Homo sapiens: one gene and its partner. The protein of the gene in region 1 interacts with the protein of each later gene in a pairwise test. Each region holds a gene or a part of one and is shown in the gene's direction. Other genes may lie near its edges.

Evidence for each region. Proteins that work in one complex are often made in the same cells at the same time.
Region 2: the proteins of TENM4 (region 1) and LGALS4 interact in binary tests that used the Homo sapiens proteins (3 or more experiments, as listed by UniProt).

What each region holds. Positions count from the first base shown.
Region 1 is NC_000011.10:79,437,791-79,446,430, reverse strand, and holds the start of TENM4 (teneurin-4), read left to right. Parts: upstream 1-5,400; 5' UTR 5,401-5,922; intron 5,923-8,640. UniProt on the Homo sapiens protein: Involved in neural development, regulating the establishment of proper connectivity within the nervous system. Plays a role in the establishment of the anterior-posterior axis during gastrulation.
Region 2 is NC_000019.10:38,802,428-38,810,256, reverse strand, and holds part of LGALS4 (galectin-4), read left to right. Parts: intron 1-1,308; coding exon 1,309-1,513; intron 1,514-3,661; coding exon 3,662-3,796; intron 3,797-6,361; coding exon 6,362-6,388; intron 6,389-6,476; coding exon 6,477-6,515; intron 6,516-6,705; coding exon 6,706-6,735; intron 6,736-7,829. UniProt on the Homo sapiens protein: Galectin that binds lactose and a related range of sugars. May be involved in the assembly of adherens junctions.

The sequences.
Region 1 (8,640 bases):
GCTAATTTTGTATTTTTAGTAGAGATGGTGTTTCTCCATGTTGGTCAGGCTGGTCTCGAACTCCTGACCTCAGGTGATCCACCCACCTCAGCCTCCCAAAGTGCTGGGATTACAGACCTGAGGCACCATGCCCGGTGCACTGCTGGTATTATTAATTGTATCTGTCCATCCATCCATCCATCCATCCAATAAAGTGTGGTAGCTGAGAACAATCCAAGGTGGACTTTGGCCTTGCCATTTATTAGTTATGTGACTGTATAATTTGCTTAACTTCTCAGTTTTCTGACCCATGGATTAGGGATAATAATTATATCTACCACAAAGTATAGCATTACAATTTAAATAAGATAATGCCTTTTGCTCATCCCCTGGCAAAATGCTCAATGCATGCTAGCTATTGTTGTTATTAGCATTCATTTCTTCACTCAGTGAAGGAATATTTACTAAGAACCTGTAAGTGCCAGTACTTTGCTAAACATTTCAGGATGAGGGGTGAAATGGAGGACAAGCTCCAATCATTTCCCTTTTAGGGAATATGTATGGTGAACCCAAGCAGAGGCTTTCCCCTTATTTTCTATGAGATAATTCAAAAGTCATTGTTAATCACCAAATCCCCAAACACTAGCTTCTAATACCTATAAGACAGAAAGACAACTCACAGGTTAGACAAACCTCACAGAAAGACAGCTCACAGATTAAATGGAGTCAGTCAGACAGAAAATCACCACCAGCCTCACCTCTTGGCTTTTAAAAATGGGGCTATGCTGGGAAAGGCAAGTGGCTTGGGAGTTCTGGAGAGCTGGATTCTGATTCTGATTCGGCTGAGCCAGAACCTCACAAGCCTCAGTGTGTTCACTCTCCCCCTCTAGTTATCACAATTCTATGTGATAACACACCGTGGAAGCTCCAGGGCCACACAGAAGGCTCTTCAAGAATGTCTCTTATTCCTTCTTTTAGTTCTAGCCCCTGCTCTGCCTCTTTGTTTGAACCTCTCTGGGTCCCTCTTCCTCTTGGTGCACACTGGAAGTAGGATTCCAGCAGGCGTGGGTACAAGGATTGAGTCAATCAACAGATGCGGAGGCCCTTTGAAAAGGTGAAAGGGCTATGCTGTGTAAGGTGTTATTATTATTAGGTTGGGGAAATTACCCACAGGGTAAATATTTCTGTGAGACGAAAATCAGAGATGCAGATGTAACCTCACCAGGGAACTATTTACAGCAACTTTTCCAAAGACTGAGACTATCCTCTGGCAGGCACTTTTCTCACCCTCTAATTATGGAAGTTTGATGGCATTTATCAGTAGGTGTCCAAATCCTAAGTAACCAACTTGCATATTTGATGTGGTGTCAGACAACAGGCATGAGGCATTGCCTCTTGCTCCTCAGTGTCTTCTTGCTTTGAAGTACTTACTCCCTGAAACAATTTTATAGTAACAGCTGGACTCTGAAGGGAAGGATTTTTTTTTTGCAAATAAATACATTTGCTAATTAAAACTTGCCCTTTAAAGACTCACATTTTCTTGACCCCACTATATGTTTTCTTTTGCTTGTAACATATCACAGAATCAATAAGGGCAATGCAAACATCTTTAATATATACAGTTTCAACAGCTCTCATAATGTATCTGCCTCCATAAGAATGCCCTCTCCCCCTCTCTAGCCCAGCTACTAATTTCCCCTGATTTGTTAAATGCCTCCTTATTTCACTCTCAGAGATAAAACTCAAAACGCAGTTACTCTTCAGGGGGAGTGGGAACGGTGGATTGAAAAGGGATAAAGTCAGGGGAGGGGGAATGATCATAGCCATGTCTTTGTGTTTTTTTAATGGCAGCTTTAAAAAGTTTTTATAATGGAATAATGAATGTTTATAGTAGGAAGATTATAAAATGCCAGAAAAAGTATAAAGAAGAAAATATATATTACTCATAACCCCATCACCCAGAAGAAAACACGGTTAATATTTGGCATTTTTTTCTTCAGACTTTTCTGCAAGAGGGTTTTTATGTAGCTAACAATTTTGAATTCTCTTTTAAAATATTATATATGACAATACTAACTTTTTTATGGCACGAAAAACTGCAAAAACACTTTCGAGTAGCTGCATAATATTCCAACAAAGGCTGTCCTCCAGTTTACTTATTTTATTTGACCATTTAGGCTGCTTCAATTTTTTTCCCATTATTACAAATAATGTACTGTCATTATATCCAATCTCCTGTTTTTCTGGGCAATACGTAGAGCTGGCTGTTTGGAGGTCTTAGGCTGAATTTTACAACTAGTGTTTCCTATGGCACAGAGCAGCCATATAGGAGAATCTCCGGTTAGCTATAGAGTTAGATTATAACATGGTAGCAACTGACCTTTTTTCCCCCCTCTAAAATGCTCCCTGAATTCTACTTCCTCCTGAATACTCTTGACATCGCAATGAGTAGTACCACCTTCTATTGAGATACCCAAGCTTGAAAACTGAGTGTCACTTTGGGCTTCTCCTTGCTACCCCCATCCAATCAGAAATCAAAATCATCCTCAATCTCTCTCAAATCTCTCCTCCCTTTTCTGGCTTCATTGCAACTGCCTTAGTTTCCCTAAATGACCTACTTTTTCCTGCCTCTACTCTTCCTAAGTCACCCCAGTTAATCCATTTCTCTACACTGCTGCCAAATCATCTTTTGAAAACACACTCAAGATCACATCCTTCCTCTTCTTAAAAGCCTTTATTAACTGTCTACCCTCCTTCTGCCCCAGTACCTGAACTTTCAGGATGTTTGGATCCTTAGCCTCCTTCAGGCCCTGTCAAAATCCAATCCTAGATGCTAGGGACTCATCTAGACTCCTCCAAGACCCTCCCCCAATATGTCCAACTCTGCTATGAGTGTCTCATGCTTTTGTCCATGTCATCATACTATTGCCTGTACCTAAAAAGCATCTCCCCTCCTTTCACGGTCTAGCTAATTCCTTGCCTTCAAAACTCAGCTCAAGGCCAGGTATGGTAGCTCACACCTATAATCCCAGCACTCTGGGAAGCCTAGGGCAGAGGATTGATGGTATTTGAGACCAGCCTGGGCAACATAGTGAGACCTCATCTGTAAAACAAACAAACAAACAAATAAAATTAGTTTGGCGTGGTGTGGTGGCACATGCCTGTGGTCCCAGCTACTCAAGAGGCTGAGGTGGGAGGATCACCTGAGCTCAGGAGGTTGAGGCTTCAGTGAACCAAGATGGCACCACTGCACTCCAGCCTGGATGACAGAGTGAGAACCTGTCATCTCCTATGGGAAGTCTTCCCTTACTCCCAACAATTCCATTGGGCATCCCTCATGATTAGATTCAGGTTATTCATGTCTACCAGGAATATCACAGAAGTGATATGTCCTTCCCAGTGCACTATATCAGGGGCCACTTGATGTCTATTTGTCACATTCCTGCTAATACTGATTTTAATCACTCAAGGTGGAGTCTTTCAGGTTTTCTATTGAAAAGTTACTATTTTCCCCTTTGAAATTAATCAGTATCATGTGGGCAGATACTTTGAACCTATATATATTTTTTGTTTCTCAACATACTTTCACCCACTACTTTTAGCATCTGGGTCTCATTTTTCTCACTGGTCAAATGAAATGCATAGACTGAAAGTGATTTGCAAAATTATCACTCTCAAAGATCCCTTTCTTATACTCCCTGTCTTGGATCTTCTGTAATGAAAGAATTTGTCCACCAAACCAATGTTACTCCTTCAGGTACATGTGTCTCATTTTCTCAGTGTACATTCATGAAACATGCCTACTGAACTGTAAGCTCAGAAAACAGGGCCTGTTTGTCTCACCACTGAATGCCGAGACCTATCACAGCACCTGCCACAAAGTAGGTGGTCAAGAAATATTTGTTGAAGGACTAAATCTAACTGCCAATCACAGCTGATGCCCAGCATTTGATGTCTGCAGTGAGGACACAAAGTTGATAAATGCTATTCAAAGGCAGAGACTTGACATTTTAGTTAATCTCAGAGGCTTTGTCACTGGTCACTGTACACTTATCATAAAGATTTTAAAAATAGATTGGACAGATTGTGTGGAAACTTCCCACCCACCCCAACCCATCCCTGCCTTTCTGAGATGCCCTAGTTATGAGATGTTGAAGGGGCATTCCAGCACCCCACGTTTATAATCTGTGATGCCTTTATAATCAGCATATGGCAACTGGCTAGACAGTCTCCTCACCACACAGAAGAGTTTTCAAAATAGCCTACCCCTCCTTTCACATTTATGTGAAATTAGCATTGTCACATTTCCTCCTTCATTGACTACTTTAGATCAGAGAGACACACTGTAGCAGAAGATCATGAAGGAAGTTGTCTTAAAGAAGGAAACTAACATAAATTAAGCATCTCATATACACCCAGTGCTTTCTTTCCATTGTTCTCTCTTTTAATCCTCACCAAAACTGGTGAAGTCGGTATCATCCATTTTATAGATGAGAAAACTGAAGCCGGGTAAGGGGAAATGGCTCGCACTAAGTCCTTTAGCCAGCAGGCAGCAGGGCTGGAGTGGGAATTCCTCCAGTCTCTTCCCCAAAGCCCTTCCAAGTTGCCACTCAGTCAAACTACCGCTCTCATCACATAAAAATGCCCTTCTCTTGGAAATGTGCTTGCCATCACGATCCAAACATTCGAGGGACAGAAATCTCTTGGACCGCAATCACTGCTATTTTTTAAGTGATTGTTATCACGACTCAGTAGCTGTTACCATGGTTTTGGGGAAGTTGTCCGAGGAAGGAGGGCCTTTCTTTGGGCATCTTGCATGCCTGAAGAAGGAACTCAAGATCTCAGCTCTTAATTACTCTGATTGTGCTGCAGTAGCAACTTGAAAGAGACCGTCCCTAGAAAAGTGTTGGGGTGGGGGGTGTGGAGTAACATCCAGCGAGCAGGCAGAAGGGAGGCCCTGGGCGCCAGAGAGACCCAGGGAAAGGCGAAGAGGAGGGAGAGGGGACGAGACCGTGCTACGGGGAGCCTGGAGAGAAAGCCAAAGGAGGAGGAAAGAACAAAAGGCAAGAGGAGAGGAAGTACAAGAAAGTCCAGAAAGGAAAAGAGAAAGTTTCAGAAAGGGGAAGAGAAAGCAAGCAAGGAGGGTAAAAGAAGAAAGAGACCAGAAAGATACCGAACTGAGAGAGCTCGGAGAACTCGAGAAAGCAAAGGAGGTAAAAGGAGAGAAGATGGAGAAGGCGGCGGAGAGGAAGGGGGAAGGAGACAGAGGAACCGAGACTGGGGTGAGGGAGCGGCCGCGCGTGGCCCCCGGAGAGGCGCCCATCACCTGCGTGGCGCCCCCCCGCGCCGGAGTGCGGCCCTGCTCCCAGCGCCAGTGCGCCGCGCGGCTCGCCGGCCTCGTAGGATTGGCTACCGCCTCCCATTCATGTAACCTGCGTGTGCGTGTGCGTGTGTGTGTGTGTCTCTCTCTCGCTCGCCCTCTCTTTCTGTGTGTAAGAGAGCGAGGGTGGGGGACGGAGGCAGGCAGGCGAGCAGGCAGGGAGGGGAAGAAGAGAAGGGAAGCTATTAAACACACACACACACACACACACTCACACACGCGCGCGCACACACCCGCCCCAACCCCCCAGAAGCCTCGGGATTGCAGCTGTTTCATGTGGGGCAGCAGTGCTGGCAGGGACGCCGGCCGGGAGCGGCCGGGAGCGGGAGCCGGTCGTGCGCGCGCGGCTGGAGGCTCGCTGGGGCTCCGCTCCCCGCGGGAGCTATTGTTGGTCTCGCTGGAGCTGAGCGCAGAGCCCGGACCTGCTCCTTCCTGGGCGCCCCGCTACGGCTCGCGGAGCAGAGGAGCCGCGCCGCCGAGAGAGAGAGGAGCCACCGGCGCGGCGCCTTGCCTCCCTGCCGCCGTCCTCGCCGCTTCCCCGGCGGTAGCAGCCTGCAGCCACGGTAAGGCGGCGTGATCCGCTCTACGGAAAAGCGCCTTGGGGACCGCGGCGACGCCTCGCCAGCTCCATCGCCCTCTGCACTGCTGGCCCGGGCAGGGTTCGGGTAGCTCACGCGGCTGCCGAGGGCTCCGGGAGATGTTTGCTTGCTCCCCTGGCCCAGGAGGAGGGAGGCTAGGGCGCGGGTGGCCGAAGAGGCAAGCTGTTCTGGAGCCTGGAGCCGCCGCAGCCCCCGGAGCCCGCCGCGGACTGGAGCCTGGGAGCAAGGGTTGGGGGAGGGCAGGGAGGTGGGAAGCGGGTGGGAGGGAGGCGGCGCGCCCCAGGTTCGTCTGCCTCTCCCGGATCCCGTTCCCCGCCCCGGCCCGGTCGCCTGCAGCCCCTCTGCAGACTAGCTCGCCCCAGGCCCCCGTCGGGCGCTGGAGGAGCCCGCGAGGCGGCGCCGGGCTTCAGCGGCTGCAGCCTGCCCTGCGGGGCAAGTGCCGGCTGCAGCAGCCCCGCACGGGCGGTGGTTGGAGCTCAGATCCTGGAGATGCGACCCCAGCTCCTCGCCCTCTGCAACCCGCGGGGCGCCCGCCTCTCCTCACCGGGCGCCCGGCCGCGGTATTGATGTTCGTCTAGGAGCCAACTGAGGCTGCAGCCGCCAGATGGACGCTTGGAGGGCTCCCGGGTGTGAGTGTGACTGTATGACTACTCTCACCCCCAGCTTCGGGAAATGTGCTCTGGGTTGAAATGTGATCACCGAGCTCCTCAGTCATTTTAATTGCCATTTTTAAATGCGGTCGTTACATTGGAGGAGCAGACTGGAAGGTAGTGGGGCGGCGTGTGTGTGTGTGTGTGTGTGTGTGTGTGGACACACACACGCAACCGAGGAATACACAACCAACTACTTGGGTGAAGGGCGGGGGGTTCACCTAGTGAGTCCTTCTTGGCGGGGGGGTCGGGCGAGTTAGCTGCCCGCTGCCCGCCCCTTCTCTGCCTGCCCCCGCCTAGGCGAGGTTGGAAAGTACTGGAAATTCAGCTGCGTGGTCCTTAACTTTGGAAATTGGCTCCGCTTTCAGGGCAAAATGTTAAGGCGATTTATGCACCCGCGTCCATGTGGATGAGTGTATTACTGCTCAGTTGGGTGCAGAGCCCTCAACAGTACCGCGCCAAGCCCCCACCCGATCTCTAACTCCCTCCCACCCCCTAACCGTGGAGAGAGGGTTTATAGAAATGCAGTTATCTGTAAACCATCGACGCAGTGAAAGGGGCGCAGGGAGGCAGCCAGAGTTTTGCCTGAACCTGCATACTGGCTTGGTGTTTGTAGCACACGAGATCACCCCGCTGCTTTGTAGAAGGCGGTGGTGGGGCAAGCTCGGGATTCCAATCGCCGGGGTGGGGGGTGGGGGGAAGAGGGTGCCCATGTACTGAGCTCTGAGGCCGAGTAAGGAGAGAGATCTGCTGAGCGGCATCGCGGGCAATTACATAAGCTGCCTCGGTGATTACCCGGAACTGTGATGCGAGCTCCCGGTTCTCGAAAGACAAGCCTGAAAGTTTGCCTGCTTGGGGAGTGTAAGTACCGGGGCGCCCCCACCCCGGCCTGGGTAGCTAGGATACGCCTCGCACCACGGCGCCCACTTGTGCGATGGGCGTCGGGTGCTGATGCTGCTGTCCCCAAAGAACCGGTTACCGAGGCAGGGACTAAGTGGGGGCATCCGGAATTGATCGCAGAGGAGGAGTCAGTCAGAACTGAGGTTTCATTGGGTCTTCAGAGCTCCAAGTCTTCCCTCGGAGGTGTTGGAAGGCCTTCCAGGGAACGCCGTTTTCAGAAACTGACTTGGTGTCCTGGGGAGCCCCAAAGCCCCTCTTTTCCGCCCTTCCTGGGCGCCCCTCCTTGTCTTTCAAGCCCTGTGCCCTTCACGTGTTTAGAAACCTGCCCGCGGTGCCTGGTCCCCCTTGGAGATGCCCAGGCAGCCCAGCCATCCAGGCCCACGCTGGCGAGGGGTTAGAGGGAGTAGAACGCTGGCTCTGCCGGGCTGCCACCCTTACCTACACCTATTCCTGGTTTCCTGCGCTAGCCCGGCGCTGATGGGGACGGGATGGGGCTGGGGTCGGGTATGGCTTCCGTTCCTTCGCCTCTCGCCTCTGCAGACAGCAGTTTGCTTCTGTTGCGTTTATTCTCCCCGTTTCGCCGCTTCCCTCCAGCGCCGCAGCCTGTGTATCACGTTGATGGGCTTTGATAGAGAAACCACAGTAAGAGTATGCTTTTAAATCTTGATTTTCGTCTGTAGGGGGATAAGCCACCCCAGCCCTGACACAGCCGTGGGGAACGCTGAAGTCTGGGACACATTGGCCCTGAACTCCCTTCCCCCCAGCCCGCAGTCAGGAGATGGTGATGTGCATGGGTGGGGAGTGTTTTGTTTTTGCCACATTCCAGCGTCCTGAAACCTCTCGTCCCCTCCCACTGAAATCCCCGATCTGTCTGAATCTGTTCCTTGCTGTAAAATAAATCCTCCCTCCCGCAGACCTGTGGGGCCCTTCGGATTTCCTGCCGCTGCCATGATCCTTAACAATGCGATTGAAAAGCCAGTGCTCGGCTGGAAAAAAATCCCCAGGTGCCAGCCGGCCGCGCCTTGACCTTGCTGAAGGAGCCTTTAACCCGGCTGCCAGAGGGGCTCTGGTCCAGCCGTGGGAATCCAGGAAGAAGGAGGGCGCCCCGGAGGCGGCTGGGTTAGCTCCCCGG
Region 2 (7,829 bases), on another chromosome or scaffold:
TTGAATCCTGAAGGCAGAGTTTGCAGTGAGCTGAGATCGCATCACTGCACTCCAGCCTAGGTGACAAAGGGAGACTGTCTCAAAAAAATTAAAAAGGTGGCCAGAGAAGGCCTGCCTGGGAAGGGAACATATCAGCAAAGAACAGAAGGAACGGAGAGAGGGATCCCCAGGGACAGCTGAGGGAAGGGCCTTCCAGGCAGAGGGAACAGCCAGTGCAAAGGCCCTGAGACAGGCCTGTCCTGGGGAGTAATTTCAAGGATGCTGGTGTGCCCAGGGGTGCGGAATATGATGCGTCATGGGTGTACACAGGGACCCTCTGGCTGCATGAGGGAAATGATCTTCAGGGCCAGGAGGGGAGCAGGGAGACCCAAAGTGCATAGGACAGGGCCTGGCCCGTGGCAGACTTGTAACAGTCATAACTGGAAGTTGGGAAGAGGGTGGAGGAGGTGGTCTAAGAAGGCAAGGTGGGCTGGGTACAGCAACTCACACCTGTAATCCCAGCACTCTGAGAGGCCGAGGTGGTAGGATTGCTTGAGCCCGGGAGTTTGAGACCAGCCTCGGCAACATAGTGAGACCCCATCTCTACAAAAAAAAAAAAAAAAAAAAAAAAAAGCCAGGCATAGTGGCATGCACCTGTAGTCCCAGCTACTAGGGAGGCTGAGGCAGGAGAATCAGTTGACCCAGGAGGTTGAGGCTGCAGTGAGCCACCATCGTGGCCACTGTACTCCAGCCTGGGGGACAGGGTGAGAACACAAGACCCTGTCTCAAGAAAAAAAATGTCAGGCACGGTGTCTCACACCTGTAATCCCAGCACTTTGGGAAGCCGAGGCAGGTGGATCACCTGAGGTCAGGAGTTTGAGATCAGCCTGGCCAACATGGTGAAACCCTGTCTCTACTAAAAATACAAAAATTAGCCGGACGTGGTGGTGCACGCCTGTAATCCCAGCTACTTGGGAGGCTGAGGCAGGAGAATCACTGGAATCCAGGAGGCGGAGGTTGCAGTGAGCTGAGATCGCGGCACTCCAACTCCAGCCTGGGCAACAGAGCAAGACTCCATCTCAAAAAAAAAAAAAAAAAAAAAAAGAAGGAAAGGCTGTGAGCGAAGGTGTGGTGGTGGGAATCTGCCCCCCTCAGAACTCAGGTCCTCTCCACGCTGTGGCCCACAGTGCCAAGGTTGCCCCTCAGAGCTGGTGCTGAGGTCCGGGCCAGGGAGGCCGAGGACAGGGCGGCAGGGAGAGGGCTTCCTGGAGGAGGCCCCCAGGCCCCGGGAGGTGGCACCAGGGGAATGAGCCCTTTGTGTCCCGCCAGGTTCTTCGTGAACTTTGTGGTTGGGCAGGATCCGGGCTCAGACGTCGCCTTCCACTTCAATCCGCGGTTTGACGGCTGGGACAAGGTGGTCTTCAACACGTTGCAGGGCGGGAAGTGGGGCAGCGAGGAGAGGAAGAGGAGCATGCCCTTCAAAAAGGGTGCCGCCTTTGAGCTGGTCTTCATAGTCCTGGCTGAGCACTACAAGGTCTGCATGCTTTCTCTCTTGTTTCCCAAGCTGGAGTGCAGTGGCGCCATCTTGGCTGCTTCCTTCCTTCCCGCCTTCCTTCCTTTTCTTTCTTTCTTTCTTTTTTTTTTTTTTTTTTTTGAGATGGAGTTTCACTCTGTTGCCCAGGCTGGAGTGCAGTGGCATGATCTCAGCTTACTGCAACCTCTGCCTGCTGGGTTCAAGAGCTTCTCCTGCCTCAGCCTCCCGAGTAGCTGGGATTATAGGCGCGTGCCACCACGCTCAGCTAATTTCTGTATTTTGAGTAGAGATGGGGTTTCACCATGTTGCCCAGGCTGGCCTCGAACTCCCGACCTCAGGTGTTCTGCCCTCCTTGGCCTCCCAAAGTGCTGGAATTACAGGCGTGAGCCACCACACCCAGCCCCTTCCTTCTTTTTCCTCTTTTTCCTTCCTCTTTCTCTGTTCTCTCCTCTTTCCTCCCCTCCTTCCTTCCCCCTTCCCTCCTCTCTTCTTCCTTCTCTCTCCTTCCCTCCTTCATTTATTTCCTTTTTCCATCCCCACTTTTTATGTCAACTTCTTTCTTTTCTTTTCCTTCTTTCCTGCCTATTTTATTTTATTTTATTATTTATTTATTTATTTATTTTTATTTATTGATCATTCTTGGGTGTTTCTCAGAGAGGGGGATGTGGCAGGGTCATAGGATAATAGTGGAGAGAAGGTCAGCAGATAAACACGTGAACAAAGGTCTCTGGTTTTCCTAGGCAGAGGGCCCTGCGGCCTTCCACAGTGTTTGTGTCCCTGGGTACTTGAGATTAGGGAGTGGTGATGACTCTTAAGGAGCATGCTGCCTTCAAGCCTCTGTTTAACAAAGCACATCCTGCACAGCCCTTAATCCATTTAACCCTGAGTTGACACACCACATGTCTCAGGGAACACAGGGTAAGGTTACAGATTAACAGCAACTCAAGGCAGAAGAATTTTTCTTAGTACAGAACAAAATGGAGTCTTCTATGTCTACTTCTTTCTACACAGACACAGTAACAATCTGATCTCTCTTTCTTTTCCCCACATTTCCCCCTTTTCTTTTCGACAAAACCGCCATCGTCATCATGGCCCATTCTTGATGGTCGCTGTCTCTTCGGAGCTGTTGGGTACACTTCCCAGACAGGGCGGCCTGGCAGAGGCGCTCCTCACTTCCCAGACGGGGCGGCCGGGCAGAGGCGCTCCTCACCTCCCAGACGAAGGGCGGCCGTTTCCTGCCTATTTTTAAAAATCCTCTTTTAGCGCTTTTCCTTAGTCCCATTACCCTACTGCTGAGAGTCTTGTAATACATTTCATGTGTATTTCCTCCTACCACTTTGTGTTTTTTGCAAAACGTGTACTTTTTGTTTTCCTCTTGAGACTGGGTCTCGCTCTGTTGCCCAGGCTGGAGTGCAGTGATGCAAACAGCTCACTACAGCCTCAACCTCCCCGGGCTCAGGTGATCCTCTCACATTAGCCTCCGGAGTAGCTGGGACTCTAGGTGCACACCACCACGCCCGGCTAATTTTTGTATATTTTTGTAAAGACGGGGTCTTGCTATGTTTCTCAAGCTGGTCTCGAACTCTTGATCTCAAATGATCCCCCACCTTGGCTTCCTAAAGTGCTGGGATTACAGGCATGAGCCACTGCGCCCGGCCAGTGAGCTGATTTTTGACCTTAGCTTGACCTCTGAGCTGTGGACTCCAAGGTTCCTGATGCTGAGGCTGTCCCAGCTCATCCCCAAGACTATCGACTCCCAATGAAAAAGATCCCTGATCCTTGCTTTTTTTTTTTTTTGAGACAGAGTCTTGCTCTGTCACCCAAGCTGGAGTGCAGCAGCGTGATCTCCACTCACTGCAACCTCCACCTCCCGGGTTCAGGCGATTCTCCTGCCTCAGCCTCCTGAGTATCTGGGATTACAGGAGCCCGCCACCATGCCTGGCTAATTTTTGTATTTTTAGTAGAGATGGGGTTTCACTATGTTGGCCAGACTGGTCTCACACTCCTGATCTCAAATGATCCACCCCCCTCAGCCTCCCAAAGTGCTGGGATTAGAGGCGTGAGCCAGGGTGCCCTGCCCTTGCTTCCTGTTTGTACCTTCCCAGGATCATGGGTGCTGACTCCTGACCTCCCATCTCTGCCCTCCAGGTGGTGGTAAATGGAAATCCCTTCTATGAGTACGGGCACCGGCTTCCCCTACAGATGGTCACCCACCTGCAAGTGGATGGGGATCTGCAACTTCAATCAATCAACTTCATCGGAGGCCAGCCCCTCCGGCCCCAGGTGTGAGGGGTCCCATCCCTTCTTGCGTCCTTTCTTTCTAAATTCAGTTCCACATTCATTTTTTTTCTTTTTTTCTTTTTTTCTTTTTTTTTTGAGACGGAGTCTCACTCTGTCGCCCAGGTTGGAGTGCAGTGGCGCGATCTTGGCTCACTGCAAGCTCCGCCTCCCAGGTTCACGCCATTCTCCTGCCTCAGCCTCCCAAATAGCTGGGACTACAGGAGCCTGCCACCACGCCCGGCTAATTTTTTTGTATTTTTAGTAGAGACAGGGTTTCACTGTGTTAGCCAAGATGGTCTCGATCTCCTTACCTCATGATCCACCCACCTCGACTTCCCAAAGTGCTGGGATTACAGGCGTGAGCCACCGCAGTTGGTCTATTTTTTCTTTTTGAGATGGAGTCTTGCTCTGTCTCCCAGGCTGGAGTACAGTGGTGTGATTCTGGCTCACTGCAACCTCTGCCTCCCAGTTTTAAGCAATTCTCCTGCCTCAGCCTCCCAAGTAGCTGGGATTACAGGCACCCACCATCACATCTGGCTAATTTTTGTATTTTTAGTAGAGACGGGGTTTCACCATGTTGGCCAGGCTGGTCTGGAACTCCTGGCCTCAAGTGATCTGCTGGCTACAGTCTCCCAGAGTGCTGGGATTACAGGTGTGAGCCATGGTGCCCAGCGCATTCCACATTCATTTATTTCCCAAGCATCTCCCTCTGCTGAGTTATGCCAAGAGCCCAGTGATGATCAAGGGATCCCACTGGGAAGACAGACCCATCACTGCAAGGGATAAAGGCCGGGATGGGGAGGCCCTGGCTGAAGGGTTGCAGTTGGGTTTGGGCCCAGACAGAGGGATCAGGGCCAGGACAGGAGGGTGGGTGGAGGCAGGCAGAGGGGTCAGGCCCAGGGCTGGAGACAGGAATGACTGAGATATCTCTGGGCCCTGACCTCACTGGGCTCACAGACATGGCATCAGAGAGTGACAGCCCAGAAATGGTCAGGTCTGTGATAGGGAGGGCACAGGCAGAGGGGCAGGGGCTGGGATATGGAGTATACAGGAGGTTTGGGAGCCTACAGGAAGGGCTTGACTAGTCATGGGTCAGGAAGGAAGTGCTTCCTGGAGTAGGAGGAAGTGTGTAAGGTGAGTCAGAAAGTGAGGATAAGGAAAGGCAAAGAACACACGATAGTGAATGAATTCCCTAGAGGTTGCTTAACACAATCATTAAAAATAAATAACATACAATTAAATTGAGTTTATCAATATTATTATTATTATTATTATTATTATTATTATTATTATTATTTTTGAGGCAGGGTCTGGCTCTGTCACCCAGGCTGGAGTGTGGTGGTGCAATCACAGCCTACTGTATTCTTGACTTCCTGGGTTCAAGTGATCCTCCCACCTCAGTCTCCTGAGTAGCTGGGACTACAGGCACGCACCACCAGCCCCAGCTAGTTTTTAAATTTTTTGTAAAGACAGAGGGGAGGAATTTTCCTATGTTGTCCAGGCTGGTCTTGAACTCCTGACCTCAGGTGATCCACCCACCTCAGCCTCCCAAAGTCCTGAGATTACAGGCGTGAGCCACAGCCCCCGGCTTATAAAGCTACGTTTATTTGTTTGTTTGTTTTTTGTTTTTTGTTTTTTTTTTAGATGGAGTCTTGCTCTGTGGCCCAGGTTGGAGTGCAGTGGCATGATCTCAGCTCACTGCACCCTCTGCCTCCCAGGTTTAAGGAATTCTTCCTCAGCCTCCCAAGTAGCTGTGATTACAGGCACCTGCCACCACGCCCGGCTATATAAAGCTACTTTTAAAAGGCCTTCAGAATAGCTGGCTGAGAATAGAAGTCAAGGCAGAATGGAGTTAATTACAAGGAGGAGAAAAGAGAAGGTAACAGAGAGAAAGAGAGAGAGTAAAAGTTAAAGGTGTTAGACTTGGGAGGGTGAGGCGAGCGGATCACCTGAGGTCGGGAGTTTGAGACCAGCCTGACCAACATGGAGAAACCCCATCTCTATTAAAAATACAAAATTAGCTGGGCGTGGTGGCGCATGCTTGTAATCCCAGCTACACCGGAGGCTGAGGCAGGAGAATCACTTGAACCCAGGAGGCAGAGGTTGAGGTGAGCAGAGATCGTGCCACTGCACGGCACCCTGGGCAACAAGAGCGAAATTCCATCTCAAATAAATAAATAAAAGTGTTTGGCAGAAGGAAGCCCCTGCGCTGAGGTGTGGCCAAGACAGAGAGAGAGGCAGAGACACAGGGACAGAGGCAGAAACTGAGATCAAGATCAGCGAGTGAGGGCCCCGGGACAGCAGGAAGACAGCAAGGGGAAGGGCACAGAGAACAAAATGGACCAAGCATTGTCCTAAAGCTTTGGGGTGACTCACTGGGCATCAGCGATCCCAGAACATGGGGTGCCCCTCTCCGTGAATCTGTGATCGGGGTGCCACCCTTTGATGCCAGAGTTCTCTGGCATAGTGGTGGTGGTGGTGGGCCACCCCAGGGCAGGCACTCTCGACATCTTTCAGTCGCAAATCTGGGGACCCTCTCATAACCGCTTTCTCTTTCTGTGCCCACAGGGACCCCCGATGATGCCACCTTACCCTGTAAGTACTTGCTGATAGGTGAGGGTCTTCCTCCCTAGTGGGGTCCCTCAGCCCCTCTCACCCTTCCTGCCTTCTGTCCATCGTTCAGGGTCCCGGACATTGCCATCAACAGCTGAACAGCCTGCCCGTGAGTGGGAGGGCTGGGAGGGCCCCGGGTGAGGAGTGGGAATGGTGAGAATTGGGGTAGGGGGAGCTAAGAGGGGTTGCAGCCCAAGGTGTACTAACCCAGCACCTAGAGAAACGCCGGAGTCTAATGGGTGTGTCATAGATATCTGTCGACTCTTGGAGAATAATATCGCTTCTTCCTCACTTCACAGACCATGGAAGGACCCCCAACCTTCAACCCGGTATGGCTTGGGGAAACAGAGATGGATGGTGGGGAGGGGGCACGGATCTCCAGGGAATCTGAGACAGCCAGAAAGGGAGTGGGCTGAGGGTTTTGGGGTGGGAGGTAGGGGAAGGGTAGATAGAGTTCGTGGTCAGGTTTAGGGAGCAGAAGGAATTGGGGATGTTTTCCAGGAGGAGTGGGACCTCTCAGAAAATTTGTTCTTGGGCTGGACATGGTGGCTCACGCCTGTAATCCCAGCACTTTGGGATGCCAAGGCGGACAGATCACGAGGTCAGGAGATCGATCGAGACCATCCTGGCCAGCATAGTGAAACTCTGTCTCTACTAAAAATACAAAAATTAGCTGGGCATGGTGGCGCGCGCCTGTAATCCCAGCTACTCAGGAAGCTGAGGCAGGAGAATCGCTTGAACCAGGGAGTCGGAGGTTGCAGTGAGCCGGGATCGTGCCACAGTACTCCAACCTGGTGACAGAACGAGACTCCATCTCAAAAAAAAAAAAAAAAAAAAAAAAAGAAAAAGAAAAGAAAAAGAAAATTTATTCTTGGCCAGACACGGTGGCTCATGCCTATAATCCCAGCCCTTTGGGAGGCCAAGGCAGGTGGATCACTTGAGGTCAAGAGTTCCAGATCAGCCTGGTCAACATGATGAATCCCCGTCTCTACTAAAATGACAAAAGTTAGCCAGGTGTGGTGGCGCACACCTGTAATCCCAGCTACTAGGAAGGCTGAGGCAGCAGAATTGCTTGAACCTAGGAGGCAGAGGTTGCAGTGAGCTGAGATTATGCCACTACACTCCAGCCTGGGCGTCAGAGGGAGACTCTGCCTAAAAAAAAAAACAAAATTTGTTCCTTTGTTCCTGCAAGGCTGGGCGTGGTGGCTCACGCCTGTAATCCCAGCACTTCGGGAGGCTGAGATGGGAGGATTGCTTGAGCCCAGCAGTTTGAGGCTGCAGTGAGGCTTGATCATGCCACTGCACTCCAGCCTGGGTGACAGAGTAAGACCCCATCTCTTATAAGAAAAAAAGACAGGAAAGAAAAGAAAAGAAAAAGAAAATTTCTTCCCACATCTGGCTCTGCTAAGCTGAGAGAGAATGG